Linked DNA regions of Homo sapiens: region 2 is linked to region 1. A link means that fine-mapping ties the variant in region 1 to the expression of a gene that starts in the linked region. Tissue or cell type: lymphoblastoid cells. Region 1 holds a variant in brackets; the other region holds the start of a gene. All regions are shown on one strand. Distances are between the middles of the regions.

Region 1 (8,106 bases):
GGACTACTCTATCCTGGCAGAACTCCCATTGTCAGCCGATTGCCTCGGGCCTGATTCAACTCAGTTGGCTCCTTCTGCAGCTGACTTACCGGCTCTTAGGCCTCATGATCTCTCTTGGGTTTTGTGGTGGCTGAAACAACATGGTGCTGGACTTCTCTGGGATTAGGTCAAATTAGAATAAGAATAAAAGTCTATCTAATTAAGTGAAATGTTTGGGATGATATAAATTTCTTTTTAATGTTGTCTATTTTGTACTTAGAAGAAATCTCTAAACTTGTACCCATTACTGGAGATGGATGCACAGATCTGGAGAAAAACATTCTCTGAATGAAAAAATGGCAAGGAAAGTCAGCTCCATGTTTGCCCTCATTGTCTAGGGTTTGTAAATTTATCATGGTTGTTACTCAGTGGCAAGCCACGTAAGAGCCACGTTTCTATAACCCAACAGACTGGGAGTTGGAAGTGGAATGGATGTTCTTGTTGATACAGGCGTTGGTTCCACTCCCACATCCCTGTAAGCCTGGGGTGCGAGAAATGTCCCCTGGGCAGTGTTTCCATCTCACCATCTCTGGAGAGGCCTCTGCCGTGGCTCCAGGAGACAGGCCCTCCCCAGGGCTCCTTTTCCTTCACACGGTGGGCACAGCCACTGCTCACGGGCCCAGCACTGGGCTGAAGTGTGCTCTGGAGTTGCTACAATTACACCTTATTTGCTATCAGCTCTACATAGCAACCAGGTGCCATACTTCACCCGTTATTTTTCTGGAACACTGAGCAGGGAATAAAACCCAGTAGAAGAGCAAGATGAAGAGGATAAAGGGCTAAAGAAAAAGAAGCGGAGGAGGGGAAAACAAAAGCGGGAGAAACTAAACACGAAATGAGTCCTTGTCATTTAGCTGGGACTCATCCACTCTTTACAGTGCTGTTTTCCATGAAAAAATGTGTTCTAAGTTTCAAATAATGAAATTGGATATTTTCTACATAAAGTCAAACCTGCCAAAGGAGAAAATATTTAGCAAGCATTCAAGATAACAAGTTTTTGTTTTTTAAAAAAATCTAGGTAGAGTTTTCTACCAACACTGAACTGAATTATGTTTTTGTTTGTTTCTTTTATAGCTGGGATGGGATACCCAGAGATGCCCCAACATCACAATTTATCTTTGAATGGCTGGTCATTTTAGCAAGGTCACTGTTACAGAACACATCAAAAAAGGCAATCATTGTAGGAAATAGGACAACAATAGCTGCTTCTACCTCCATGCTAGTATTAGGGTCAAGATCATCACACTCTGATTCCTCGGAACTGTTCGTCTCCTTGATTGGCAGCATGAGGAAGGGGGAAGAAAGAGAACACAGTTAGAACACAAGTAGCTTTTGCTAGAGAGAGAGGAGAACTTCAGAGAAGCATGGGCGATGGGATCTTGGGCAGAGAAAAAACCAGGTGTTTTTAAAGTGGGGGTGAGAATCACCAGGGGCAGCAGCATGCTCTTTTCAGGGAGAGGAGGCGGGGGTTGTGTACAACTGCTTATCTCATGGGAAACAGCAATGGAAGCAAAATGAAGCATGAGTGTTGTCGAATTTAAACTGTTGTCTTCTGTGAGGCTGGACTTCCCAGATGAGAGTGAAGGAGAGTATACAATTTCTTTTCCCCAAGAAATCTCTTAGACTGGGTTTTAGTTGTTCTTACTTTGCTAAGGAAGGGAAACAAAGTTCCAGGTAGATGATCACACATTATAGCATAATTAGTGCTATAATAATCAGTGTCTAGTTTCCATTGTCCATTGGTCCATTGGCAGATCTTTCCAGAGGTTCCAATTTAAAGAAAGCAGATGACATTGTTTCAAGATGGGGGTAAATAAGAGTCTGCCAAGCTTAGAATTCATGAGTTCAAAGTAGTAGATGGATTATTTAAAGAAATAATTTGGGCTTCACCAATGTGCCCCCCTACTGTGTCCATGCAAGTAAAATGGCCTGAAGTTGATGTTGTCTGAACTCTGGGGAAAAGAAATGAAACTTTACTAAGGACACAGTGGCCCTTAAATTCCAAACCTCAGCCTTCACAGGGTTGGGGGTTTGGAAGGCATCCCTAATTGCTTTACCCTGTGTGTATTCTCAAACCTAGGGTACCAAATGGCAGCTTTGATAAATTTAATATGAATCAAGCATCTCACATTTTTAAGAGAATGCTGCAGATAATTTTGCTGTAAAACATCTGCACAGTATAAAGAGAAAGGTATAAAAGAAAAAAAAGGTACTTACTTGAATTGAAGTTGCCAGGAGAAATAAAAGATAAAAAATAAATTGATCTTGCATGCAAAATCCTGCTAAACTACTTCCCCTCTGGTACCCATACTGGGAAAAAAAAAAAATAACCCATCCACCCAAATTGGCTTGTGAGAATGCTGCAGGGTGGGAGTGGATGACAGGTGGGGACGCAGCTCCGGAATACCTTACTCACTTTAACAGAGACTTTGTTGCCCAGAATATCCTTGGGTTTACGAGGCCCTGTGGCTTCATTTTTACCCGTGTTCTCCACTTCCGCCCGCTTTCTCATGCGTAGAGTATGCCATGAACATGACTTCCTGTTGTACCAAAAAATGCACCAATCAAAATGGCAGGTCAGGGACAGCGATGTGGAGGGCGGGCTCACCACCCTTGGGTGAGTCAGCAGGTGAGGTGCTCCATCAAGCCCGGGCTTCAGAGGCCCCAAACCTGCACACCAGCTCCAAGGGTGGCTGGCGGCTGACCTCGCCTCCAACTGGAAGTGAGCAAGGATGAACTCTGACCTCCCCTGGTAGATGTGCAAGGTTGACTACGGCATTTAAAGAAAATATGAATGCTAGGTTACTAAACTCTAATAAGGGAGTTTGTATACCATACCCATGATGCCTCACAGGACTGAGGAATTCCTCTTGAGAAGGGCACGGTGGATGGGTGAGGAAAGGGGGCGAAGAGTAGAATAGGAAAGTCAAGGGAAGTATATTCTAGAATGCATATGCTACTGACACTTTCCCAGGACCAGACAGAAAGACCTAAAAGGATGACATTGAGAGTTCTACCTCATGATTTGTATTTGGGCAGGGCCACTCCCAAACAATGTTGATCAGACAGGATTTTCTGTGGCAGACATTTGCTTAATAAACAGTTGAGCACCACTCATTTACCTGGATATTTTAGGGCAAAGAGTTTCTCGGTCTATATTCTCCATATCACTCAGTGTTTGTGAATATATGGCTTTGTCAGCCTGTAGAGGTCCTAGAGCTTCCCTATTGGGACAAGA[A/C]CTAATGTGTGCTCCCAGGGAGGTGAGAGCAGCAATGGCTTTTCAATAGGCCTTTCATCCTAACTTCTTTCTTCCCACAAAGGGTCTTGGGAGCAACTTCTTCACAGACCTATGAAGACAAGCTCAGAGCAGAGCCCTTACATTCCATAAATATCAGATCTCAAAGACAGAGATACCAAAAGCCAAGTCACAAACAGCATCAGTGACCCTGAGCAGGCATCATCAGTTTCAGGTGAGGTCACAGAGCTTGAATGAAGTTCTAATTGTTGTCTGGAATAAGTAAGACGTGGCTTCCCCTCAGTATCTCCTTGTCAAAGGTGGGCCTATGCAGACAGGGCTCCATGAGATGAGCGTCCATTATGGGAGAGAGGCAGAGGAGATTTAGGAAAAGGAAGCTGCTGCAAAATACAGAGCATCCCTCCAGAACACTCCACATACATCAGGATTTTAAGGGTACTTTGAGGAAGGTGTTCCAAAAATATTTATCCGCTAACACACAGGTTCAACCTTCTGAGCAGGAAAGAGCAATCACAGTAATATTCTTGAATCTTGTGGGAAAGTGGGCTCCTTCAAAAACTCTTGTATCTCCTAACTAGTCAGGCTCTCTACTGTCCCCTGCATACCAGCACCTTGCTCCAACCGTTGTATAAGTGAGAACCAGCCATAGAAGCTAATCTTAGATGGCATCAGCCTGTTAACTTCAGACTTTGATAACTTTACTCCCAAACCCATGTCCCTGGCTCCTTCTGAGAACAACTTGAGTCAGGGAGATCCCTGCTGAAAGGACTCCCAGGGCAGGCAGCACGTTGTGTATGTGTGTGTCCTTGTGGGGGTGTGTTTCTACATTTATTAAATTCTCTGGGTTATTTAATATGCTTGGTGAAAAACTAGAAATATGAGCAATAACATTTCATGTTCAGAAGGAAGACTGAGAGTAGTATAAATGGCAGGGCAGGCTTGGTTTCATATTCTTCCCAGAAGAACTCGTCATCATGGTTTGGGGAGCTTCCATCTCTTGGTTGCAAGCCCAGGGACTGATGTGGACACAGGGTTTCAGTGACGTTTATCCTGTAGGCATCACAACCAACTCTGACCCCTGTGGTTATGGCAGGCCTTGGGGAGGGTGTGCTGAGTGTCCTCCACTGGTAAATGCTGACAACCTTTTTCAGTCCACTGCTCCCCTCCACACACACCCCCAACCCTTTTGCAAGAGCGGCTGACAAGAAATCAAAATGACCCATTTGTATTTCAATCTGCTCTCTTTTGCTCGGTCTGACATCCTTTTACCTTCCCTCCCATGGAAGGTATGGATAAGTGGCCAACAGAACCAAAGGTAGGGAGGAAGAAGTGTTTAGTGCCTGGATATTTAGAGGATAAATCATTAAGAGTTAGCTCTGCAAGTCCCCTGATTAGTAAAAACTTCAATGCTTTGAGGGCCTTTATCCCAAGGCTTACCTAAAAGGCACCCAAAACAAGTATACTTAGGATAAAATGCATGGGGGCTATTGTGCCTTAGGGGCCACTGTGGATTTTTGGCTGGGCCTGTGGTTACCTAGTGAGGCCAGGGTGATGTCAGTAGCTGCTATCCCCTGACCTAGAGGGCCAAAGCAGTGCAGTTATGCTGGTGCCACTGCTCAGATAGCTCATGGAAGCCCCCTGCACCACGTCTTCCATGGATTACTATGCAGCAGGGGAAAGCAGCGGAGAATGCCAGTCAAACACTGCCTTCTACTCTGGTCATTAATTGACATCAGCACCTCAGGGCTGCCCAGTTGCAGGGAACCAGTTGGACAGCATCAAATCTGTACCTTCCCTCATCTCAGAGGTTAGAGAAAATCAACAGGGGCTATTTAGGAGGGAAGGCCCGGGTCAGAACTTCAGCAACAAAAATACTTTTTATGTAGGAAAAAAAAATGCCAATGCATTCACCCAAATCCTAAAATACAGAAAAGGGAAAAAAAAAAAAAAAAAAAGAAGAAGAGGAGGAAAAGAAGAAGAATTGTTTGCACATTTGAAAGTCCAAGAATAGTGAAACAGGGGAAAAAGGGTCAACTAGTCTTTAACTTCATTAAAACATGCTCATGGTGAAAATTTATTTTACATATTTAAAATAGTACATTTAAACTGATTAGTTACATTACAGGTACAACGATGAGCACTGTGACGCCATCATATTGCACATCCTGACTTCATCCATATGGGTTTCTTTAAATAGTGCAAAATACTTTATACAGGAATGTGTTCGGAAGGGTCTTGCAACCAAAATAAGGAAAAGAAGTATCTTACAAATTACTATGAACATATATTCAAGTGACGGGGTGAAGGGAAATTTTTAAAAAGTTACAATCTGTACAGAGGAATTGCCACAGACAACCAAAAAGTTCCCTCCCTCCTGGGAAAAGCAGCGGGCCTCTGACCTTCACAGGTCTGGCATTTGTGCCAAGGTAATTTTTTGGTGTCAATCAAAAATATATATATATATATATATCAGTTACTTAATACAATATAAATAGAAGTCCAGTCCAGTGAGTCCTGTGGTGGGTCAAATGTGGCAACAGAAGGCACACCTTTTGTCACCTAGGGTTTCAGTAGGGTTCTTAATGAATGTGGGGGAGAAAGGGGGAAAAATGAACAGAAAATTATAAACCAAAAGGAAAGAAAAATCATCGCCACCACCAACTAAAAAACTGGATCACTCCAGCCCGGATGCCCCATGTTGCATATGGTGTCAGCACTCAAACACTGGTTCTGTGGTACTGTTGAGAATAAGCAGTAGTAATTCCCTACCATGTGTTTGCATTTTTGTGTTCTTTTGTTTGTTTCTGAATATTTTTAATCCTCATACTCCTCTCCCGGGGAAGCCAACGAGGCACTTACTTGATGCTCCCGTCACTACTTTCTGCTGCTGTGGCTTTGGTGAGGGGCGCCAGGATGCTGCCTGGGACCCAGCCCTCGGCGGCGGGGGAATGGTCGCTGGCAGGCTGGTACACCAGACACATGTTCTGCTGGTTGACGGCGAGGACCTGGACCACCTCACCTTGGCTCACACAGATTTCATTCTCCTTCAGTGCATAGTAATCTTTGATCACGGCCATGGACGAGGTCCCATTGCAGCCTCCCAGGTCGTTCTGCTGGGAGATAAGGGTGAGAGGGGCACAAACACAAGGACGCTAGTTCACATGGGCTTGCTCTGCACCCTACCCAGTGGTTCAAGGCCAAATCTCCCACTAGCAGGGTAGGCAGCAGGCAGCATTCTCTCTTGAGTAATGACATGATATTAATAAACATGCTCTGAAAGTATATTTTTTAATAGCAATGTTTCAACAATATTATCATCCAGGGTGAATGGCTCCACCCCACATAAAGGTATAAACACGCCTTTGACCTGGAAGCCCCTTCCCAGCATACAACCTTCCTGCCAGCGTTCTCTTACAAGTGAAAGGAAGAACCTGGCACTGGCATAGGGGTATGTAAGCACCTGGGCAGAATGAGGTCAGGGCAAGTGTCATGTCAGGGGTCACAATCCTTCAATGGAAAGAACACGGATTGTTTGATATTAAATTTTTCTCTTTTTGAAAGTGCGCTGGCTTTACTTTATATTCTGACCCTCTTTGAGACAGGACTAAGAATGATATCTCTGCCCAATTCAAAGGCAAGACCATGACCTACCCTTACCCAACTTCCTGCAGGCACCAGGTACCCTCCCCTACTCATTAATATAAGAGATGCTGCCCATGACCTTTTCATGTGAGTCTATTTCAGGGCAGCTGCCTCTAGACAGACTTGTAACTTTCCTAGGAGGACTGGCTGCCTCATAGAGCATGGTAAGAGCCAGAAATTCTTCAGTATATACATATATATTCTATATGCATATACATACAGGATATACATATATATTCTATATGCATATACATACAGGATATACATATATATTCTATATGCATATACATACAGGATATACATATATATTCTATATGTATATACATACAGGATATACATATATATTCTATATGTATATACATACAGGATATACATATATATTCTATATGTATATACATACAGGATATACATACAAATTCTTCAGTATATACTTTTTGTTTGTTTTTGAGACACGGTCTTGCTATGTCACCTAGGCTAGAGTGCAGTGGCAGAGTCATAGCTCACTGTAGCCTCGACTTCCCAGGCTCAAGTGATTCTCCTGCCTCAGTATCTGGGACAACAGGTGCATGCTACCGTGCCTGGCTAATTTTTTTTTTTTTTTAAAGTTTTATTAGAGATGAGTTCTTGCTATGTTGCCCAGGCTGGTCTTGAGCTCTTAAGCCCAAGCCATCACCCTGCCTTGGCCTCCCAAAGTGCTGGGATTACAGGCGTGAGCCAGCGCATCTGGCCCGATATGTTTGACAAAATGCCAAAGTGACTTCAGTTTATTCACAAAGGCAGGATTGTTTTTTAAGGTGGAAAATCATTTCCAGGTGATGTGACGGAACAAATCAGTGTGGTTACTCTAATACAGGATTGAACTTGGACACTAATAATTTTTTAATATAACCAATATAAACTAATAATTTTGAGGAGAAATAAAACTATAAAACTGGAACATGTAGATAAAAAATGTAAGTGTTCCTATTCATAGAGCCACTGAGTTCTAGAGAAAACTGAGGCCTAATGAGGTTAACTAACTCGGCTAAGGTTCTAAAGCAAGTGAGTTGCAGAACTGGGAATAGAAACCAGGTTTGCCTGATTCCTAATCTAGCACTTTTCCCATTTCTCTCCTGTTCTACCTACCTTGTAGGGGCAAAATAGCTGTGTAGACTAAGTCTATGGTTGAG
Region 2 (8,106 bases), 640 kb after region 1:
AAGGAACCAAAATGACAGAATAATTTGAAACATGCCTAATTAGAAGCACAGTATGCCAGAATTTTGACAAAGCAATTTCCAGTTTGGTCCTTGTGCATACAAAATTTTCCATCAGAAAGAAAGGGGTAACCCTGGTGCTAGGGACTTTGAAAATTTGTTTGAAGCTTTCTCAGTTGTTCAATAGAATACATTTATAATCTATCCAGCCTATCAGGTATAGTGCTATATTCCACAGAGATGGGAAATCAGAAGGGAGAAGGTTTAGAAACATGGCTTTTCTAAGCTTAAGAATCTCCACCAACGCATATGCATATGTTCATTGCAGCACTGTTCACAATAGCAAAGACATGGAATCAACCTAAATGCCCATCAATGGCAGACTAGATAAAGAAAATGTGGTACATGTACATCATGGAATACTATGCAGCCATAAAAAAGAATAAGATCATGCCCTTTGCAGCAACATGGATGGAGGTGGAGGCTGTTATCTTAAGCAAACTAACGCAGGAACAAAAAACCAAATACTTCATGTTCTCACTTATAAGTGAGAGTTAAACAATGAAAACACATGGACACAAAGAGAGGAATAACAAACACCGGAGCCTACTTGAGGGTGGAAGGTGGGAGGACAGAGAAAATCAGAAAAAATACCTATCAGGTACTATGCTTATTACCAAGGTGATGAAATAATCTGTATACGAAACCCCTGTGACACACAGTTTATCTATATAACCCATACATGTACCCCTGAACCTAAAATAAAAATTAACAACAAAAAATAAAAATAAAAAGAAGAAGAAGAATCCCCAGCAAGAGCCTAGGCTAGAGACCAGAAGTGTGGTGACAGTCAGTGAGCCAAGCATAGAGGGCCACACAGGGTGGATGTAGTCCTTGACCTACCCCCTCTTGCAACATGTTACAGGTCATCAGTCATTTCCAGCCTCATGCACCAATGACTTAACCTTTCTCTGATACTAAGTGCACATCAGACTTAGCTCAGCCACTGGGCTGCCCAAGGAGGAGGGAGAATATCCCCAACATAGGAATCCCACAGGAGACTGACCCCAGTCTGCTATTTATTCTGTGATTTGAGCCAGGGTTAGATAATGTGTGCCACACCTTGTGTTTTGAAAGGCCCTGGGAAAAGTAACACATTGGACTATTATTGGCCATTAACACTGTGTGAATTTATTATCAGAAATAAGCAAGCCTCCAGGAACTGAGCTCTGCTACGGGTGCCTGGAACAGAAAATGAACAGGACCTAGTGTTTGGATGATAGGAAAGGGGAAAGAGGAGTGGGCACCAAAAGGTAAAAGTGGAGTCCAGAAAGGGAAGGTGGGAAGGCTCACACTTCAAGATTTTTCCCTCAGAGCTAAGAAAATGCAGACTTTTGCCCCAGTTGGGAGGCAAGGGGGGTCAGCTGGGTTTTTGATTGACTGGTCAATTTGTTTCTAGTCCCAGTTATGAATTCCCATATCTCCCCTCCTCTGCCTCATAATGAGTATTTCTGAATATCACTTAGCCCCCAGAACCACCTTTTCCCTAGATTCCACCTCTTTAGAATCCATGCTTTTGGGTGCTGGGCTGTGTGTGTATGAGAGAGAGAGAGAGAAGAAAGAAAATAGAATCCATGTCTCGGAAGAGGAAGGAGGGAAGGAAGGAGGAAGAAAGAAAAGGAAAGAAGGCTTAGACCTGGGAAGCAGAATAGAATGACAGGGCTCCCTCTGATTTCCCCAGACCCTGGCACCAGCTCCTGTCCTCCAGTTTTTTCCTCTGCACATCAACTAGAGAATGAACATATGAGCCAATCAAGTCTTGACTTCCAAAGCCACAAGTCTCCCCCGCAAAGCACCCCACCCCCTTCCCTAGAGATGACCTCCAGGGCAAGGTAACAGGGTTAGGAAACAGATGGATGTGCAGAGACCCTCCAGAGCTAACCTGACCCCTGACCCCCACCAGTTCATGTCCTCTAATCCAACTTTCCAGAAGGGAGAGCAGATGCATGGGGCCCCGGTAACTTACTGGACTCCTTGGGACAAAGATTCCAGACAAAACTGTTTCAGACATGTGGGGAGATGGGGAGCTACACACAGAAGCTGGTGGAAGCCACAGGTACAGGGAGACGGGGAATCCCTGGCCATCAGAGAAACAGGGCCACAGGTGGTGGAAGATAAGGGTGGTCAGTGCCGGTTCTAGGGAGGGACTGTGTAGCCAGGGAGCAGGAGGAGCAATGGACCCGGGACTTGGACGATGGCAGGGGCGCAAAGAGCTAGAAAGACATCTCAGGGCTCTACACCTCACAGCAAGCAGAGACTTAGTGGGTGTGTATGAGAGGGACGCTAACTCACACTTCCAGGAATGAGTAATTCTTATGAATAGCTCCTCCGTTCCCAGAACTGAAGAGGAGGACAAGGGGGAGGTCCGAGGCGCCCACCGCCCTCCCAGCTGGGTCTGCCTCTCAAGTCAGAGGGACCAGCTCCCCACACGCACCAGGCGAGACCGATGTCTTCCGCCCCACTCCTGTCAGTCTGCAGCCGGCGCGGCTCCGGGTCCCCGCCGCCCCTCTGTGCACATCAGGGCCCCGGGCCCCCGACGGCGAGGAGGGGTGCCGACCCAGGGCGGCCGCCGGGAGCCCCGCTGACAGGCACAGGGGAGGGGGAGCCAAGGGAGGGGCCGGGACGCCGGTAGCCGGAGCGGCGCGCTGCAAAGTGAGCCAACACCGCCCATCCCCGCGCTCTGGGAGAAGGCGGTCCGAGGGGACCGCCTCCCACCTCCCCAACACAGACTCCCGCAACTGGGGTGAAGGCGGAGGGGCGCGGAGTTCCCAGCCCCCACGCCCTCCCCAGACGCAGCCAGCACTGCCATAACAACCAGAATCTCGGCAACTCCAGCCCCGACGCCGAGGGGGCACTGCCCCCCAACACGCACGCGGCAGCAACAGCCCTCCTTCCCCAAACTTGTCCGAGACGCCGCGTCCGAGGCAGTAGCCTTCAGCCCTGGCCCCCCGCGCCCTGCCCGGCTTACCTGTCCGGAAAAAGGCGTCCACGTCCGAGTCTGCTGCTCCTCCTTCCTCCGCTGCTCCCTCAGGGGGGTTCATGACTGTGGGAGGGCGTCCGCGGGCAGCCGGGAGCCGAAGAAGCCTGGGGCCGAGGGCTGCTCGGCGCCCGGTGGGCGGAGGGCGCGGGGCGCAGCTGCTGCGGCCGCAGAGCTGGCGGCCGCGGAGCTTCGAGGGCGGGCGTTGGGCGGCGGGGCTGGGGCAGAGGACGCTGAGCCTCCCTCAGGCGGAGGCGCGCGGCGGGCTGGGGGTGCCTGCCGCCAGCTCCCCCATGGTACCCCTTCCCCAGGGCGCTGGCCGCCTGCTGTCTGGCTGGGGCCGGGGCCCGGGGCCGGGGTGCGGGCTGCCTGGGCGCCCGCTGTCCCCCAGCAGCGGCAGCTGGCTCTCCTGCTCGCCCGTCTGCCTGTCTCTATTGTTCAGCCCTGCTCCGCTCTCTCCTCTTTATTTTTCCTCCTCCCTCCCACCCTCCCTGTCTCCCTACCTCCTCCCTCCCTCGCTCACTCGCTCACTCGCTACCTCCCTCCTTCGCTCGCTCGCTCTCTAGCTCCCCCTCTGGCTCCCGCCGCCGCCGCCGCCGCAGCAGCCGCCTCCCCAGCTCCTCCCCCGGCTCCCGCTCCCTCAGTCCCGGCCAACAATGACCCCGGGAGCGCCGAGCTGAATTGAAGCTCCGGCCGGGGCCGAGGGCTCGCTGCGGGCCCCCGGCGGCGCCTACGCCCCCAGTCCCAGCGGCCCCGCGCCGGCCTCCCGGGGAGCGGAGCCCGAGTCCCGAGCTATTGTTCGAGGCTGTGCTAGGCCGGCTTCCTGAGCTCCGCAGGAAAAGCCCGGGCCAGGGAGGGGGCGGGGCCGCCGGGCGAGCCCGGGGCTGCAGGGCACACGCCAGGCTTGTCCAGGGGGCTCTGCGGCCCGGGCGCTGCGCGCTCAGCTTCTCCGCTCGCGCCGCCGGTGCTCCTCCCGGCCCCGCGGCCACCTCCTCCGTCCACTCCACTCCCAGGTGTGTGAGGGGACCACCAGGCTGCCCGCCCGCCTTCTCTGGATCTTCAGATCGGTCTCCAAGCTGGACTGACCTGTCCCTAGAGGCCGGCCTTTCTTCCCCTCCTTCCTGACGAGCTCTCTTCTGTCTCCCTGCCCTCCTGAGCCTCTCACATTTTCCTCACCAGCTCGCCACAGTTTCTCTCCTTTTTATCTTTTCTCGTCCTTTTCCCCTTTTCAGCGCCCCTTTAAACATCTCCGCCTGTCTCTGTGACTCTTTGTCCAGTTTAATGCTCCTGTGATGTCTCCCTGCCTATCTCTCCCTCCCTCCGTCACTCTCTTGTCCCTCGTTTGTCTCTGTCCTGCCTCCGTACTTGGCCCGTATCTCCGCGCTCCTCTTGGACAGCTGTCAAAACTCTCTAATCCCTGGGGCCTTCTCGGTTTTGTTCTCCCTCATGTGAATGGAGAGATCCAGTTGGCCAGGAGGAAGGAGGTGTTACAGCAAGCTGAATTTCAATTAAAGTGGGGAGAGGGGCTGGGGAGGAATGGGGATGGCTGCAAAAAAGAAAACAGATGCTGTATGGGGTAATTAATGCGGTGATTGTATTGTGCCCATCAGTTTTTAAGCAATAATTAAACAATAATTAGCCAGTAGTGTGTTTATGGTTCTAGTGACTACAGAGCCCACCAAACAGAGGGTCTTTAAGACCTGAGTACTTAATAAGGTCTGCTGAGCGCTGTTCGCTGTTGCCTCATCCAGACAGATGGAGAAGTGGTGGCCTGACCTAATGTGTTAAAACACGCCTAATAGGAAAACCAGGTACTGGTCTGAAGTTAATGACTGCAACCCATCAGACAGAATCTCCTGGATCTGTTTGTCTCTAGTAACCTGTTTGGTTCCACCTCTCTCTGGGGGCCAAGGCAACTGGGGCCTATGCAGATCCACCAACTGTGTAAACTTGTAGCAAATAAAATGAATTAAATTAGTTTTTAGTGAACACTTTCTGGCTCCCTGTACGCATCACGTTCTTCACTGACACAAACAGTCTAATTTTTTTTCACCCATTAAAAAAAAGTACCTGTTTCCAACCTTGGATACACCTATCAGACCTGTCTCCAACCTTGAGTACATCTATCAGACCTCTGTAGTGACTCTGACATCACAAGTTCACTGCCCTGAGATCTAATTCATCTGGCCCTAGTATCTTGAACTGGCTTAAGATGCCCCTTTGCCTATGCCTTTTCTGACAATGAAAATACTTCTCATTTGTCTTTTCAAAATCTTCCTTCCCCTTAATCCTTTGCCTAACCCCTGGTCTGCTCCCCTACCCCCGCACACACATATGTGATGGCAGAGCTGCTATTAATTAATTGCCACCATTGTGCAGCTAAAGAACCAGTGGCCTGGCAAGGCATTAGCTCATCACAATTCAGAAGAAACATTACATGTTTAGAGGAAGGGTCATATCAAAATCTCAAGATATAGACAAGAAAGGGGGAACACCTTATGTAATGACACAAACTTTTTTTGAGAGGAAATTTGGCAACTTCTATTAAAATGTTAAGTGTTCATGGCTATATTAATATCAAAGAAGACTTCAAAGCAAAGAATATTACCAGGGATAAAGAGGAACATTTCAATTCATCAAGCAGACGTAACAATCCTAAGAGTGTTTGCACCTAATAAGATAGCTTCAAAGTACATGAAGCAAAACTGATAGGATTGCAAGGAGAAATATAAAAATTTATAATTATAGTCAGATAATTTAATATCTGTAAAATGCAGTAATTAATAGAATAAGGAGACAGATCATCAGTAAAGATATGGAAGACTTGAACAATGTTATCAACCAACCTAACCTAACTGACATTTATAGAATATTCCACTCCATAACAGCAGATACACATTTTTTCAAATGCACAGGTAGCATTTGTCAAGATAAACCATACACTAAGCCATAAAACAAATCTCAATAAATTTAAAAGGATTAAAATCATGCAAAGAGGTACATAAATTATACCTAAGTTGGTTTTTAAAAAAAAATCAGAGTATGTTCTCTGACCACAATAGAATTAAACTAGAAATCAATAACAAAAAGAATCTAGAAAAACCTCCCAAATATTTGGAAAGTAAATAACACACTTCTAAATAACACATGAGCTACTAAGAATTCAAAGGATGGGCTGGGCACCATGGCTCATGCCTATAATTCTAACACTTTGTGAGGCTGAGGCCAGGGGATCACCTGAGGCCAGGAGTTCAAGACCAGACTGACCAACAGGGCAAAACCCATCTCTACTAAAAATACAAAAATTAGCCGGACATGGTAGCGTTTGCCTGCAATCCCAGCTACTCTGGTGGCTGAGGCATGAGAATCACTTGAACCCAGGAAGCAGAGGTTGCAGTGAGCCAAGATTGTGCCACTGCACTTTAGCCTGGGTGACACAGTGAGACTTTGTCCCCTGCCACCCCCACCAAAAAAAGAATTAAAAGGGGGATATTAGAAAGAATCTCAAAGTGAATAAAAATGAAAACACATTACATAAAAATCTGTGGGATGCAGCTAAGGCAGTCTAAATCTGTGGGATGCAGCTGAAGCAGAAAGACATTTATAGTGCTAAATACCTATTTTGAAAATAAAGATCTCCCATCAATAAGCTCCTATTCTACTGTAAGAGCAAACGAAATCAAAGTGGAAGAACAGAAATAAAAAAGATCAGAGCAGAAGGCAATAAAATAGCAGGAAAACAAAAGAAAAAAATCAATGAAACTAAAGTGGGTTCTTTAAGATCAATAAAATAAAAAAACCTCCACCCAGACTGATCAGAAAATAAGAGAAAAATCTCAAATTACTGCTAGCAGGAATGACAGAGGTAACATCACTACAAATTCTATAAATGTAAAAATAATAATAAGGGAATATTATGAACAACTTTATGCCAACAAATTTGACAACTTTCATAAGATGGACACAAACTACTAAAGTTCACTCAAGGAGAAATTGCTAACTTAAATAGCTATTTATCTACTATAGAAATTAAATTTGTAGCTTAAAAGCTTTCCCCACACACACCCACACACAAAACAACTCAAGATTCACATGGGTTTTTTGGTAAATTTATGAAACATTTAAGGAAGAAATAATATCAATTCCACAAAAACTCTTCCAGAAAAGTGAAAAGGAGGAAATATTTCCCAACTACTTCTATGAGGCCAGCATTACTCTGATGCCAAAACTAAACAAAGGCCATATAAGAAAAAAAATGTAGACTACTTCCTTAGGAATATTTATTAGGAATAAAATTTTTAATAAAATTTTAGCAAATAAAATCTACAATATATAAAAAGGATAATACATCATAACCAAGTGGGTTTATCCCACATATACAAGGTTGGTTTCACATTTGGAAAACTATTCAATGTAACTTACCACATGATATGGGTTGAATTGTATTCTCAAAAAAGGTATGTTAAAGTCCTAACCCCTGGTAGCTGTGAAAGTGGCCTTATTTGGAAATAAGGTGTTTGCAGATATAATCAAATTTGGAATGTGGTCACTAGGATGGACCCTAATCCAATATGACTGGTGTCCCGATAAGAAGAAAAAAAAATTCCATATGAAGACAGAGAAGACAGAGACACATAGGGAAAAATGCCATGTAATGGCAGAGGCAGAGATTGGAGTGACGCAGCAGCAAAGAATACCAAGAATTGACAGCCACCACCAGAAGCTAGAAAGAGGTAAAGAAAGATTCTCCCCAGAGTCTCAGAGGGAGCATGGCCATTCTAACACTTGATTTCAGACTTCTTCTCTTCAGAACTGTGACAGAATAAATGTCTATTATTTTAAGCTACCCAGTTTGCACTACTTCGTTACAGCAACCCTAGGAAACCAATATACCATATTTAAAAAGCAATACAAGTCCGAGTATGGTGGCTTACGCCCGTAATCCTAGCACTTTGGGAGACCAAGGTGGGCAAATCCCTTGATCCCAGGAGACTGAAACCAGCCTGGGCGACATGGCATAACCCATCTCTACAAAAAATACAAAAAGTAGCCGGACATGGTGGCATGAAAGT

The links. PIP is the estimated chance that this variant, and not a neighbour inherited with it, causes the effect.
Region 2: KALRN starts here. The variant in region 1 is fine-mapped to the expression of KALRN in lymphoblastoid cells (TwinsUK, PIP 0.91).

Annotation. Positions count from the first base shown.
Region 1 is chr3:124,672,663-124,680,768 of GRCh38, reverse strand. KALRN (kalirin RhoGEF kinase) reads right to left here. Exons shown (of 60, transcript NM_001388419.1): 49 at 6,155-6,405; 50 at 2,456-2,579; 51 at 1,252-1,311. Among named protein-coding and RNA genes, the nearest start is that of UMPS, 54 kb to the left of the region's middle. The variant A/C (reference allele first, on the strand shown) is at 3,278.
Region 2 is chr3:124,028,733-124,036,838 of GRCh38, reverse strand. KALRN (kalirin RhoGEF kinase) reads right to left here and starts at 3,470. Exons shown (of 60, transcript NM_001388419.1): 1 at 3,026-3,470. The coding sequence starts at 3,098. RefSeq lists a silencer at 3,495-3,954.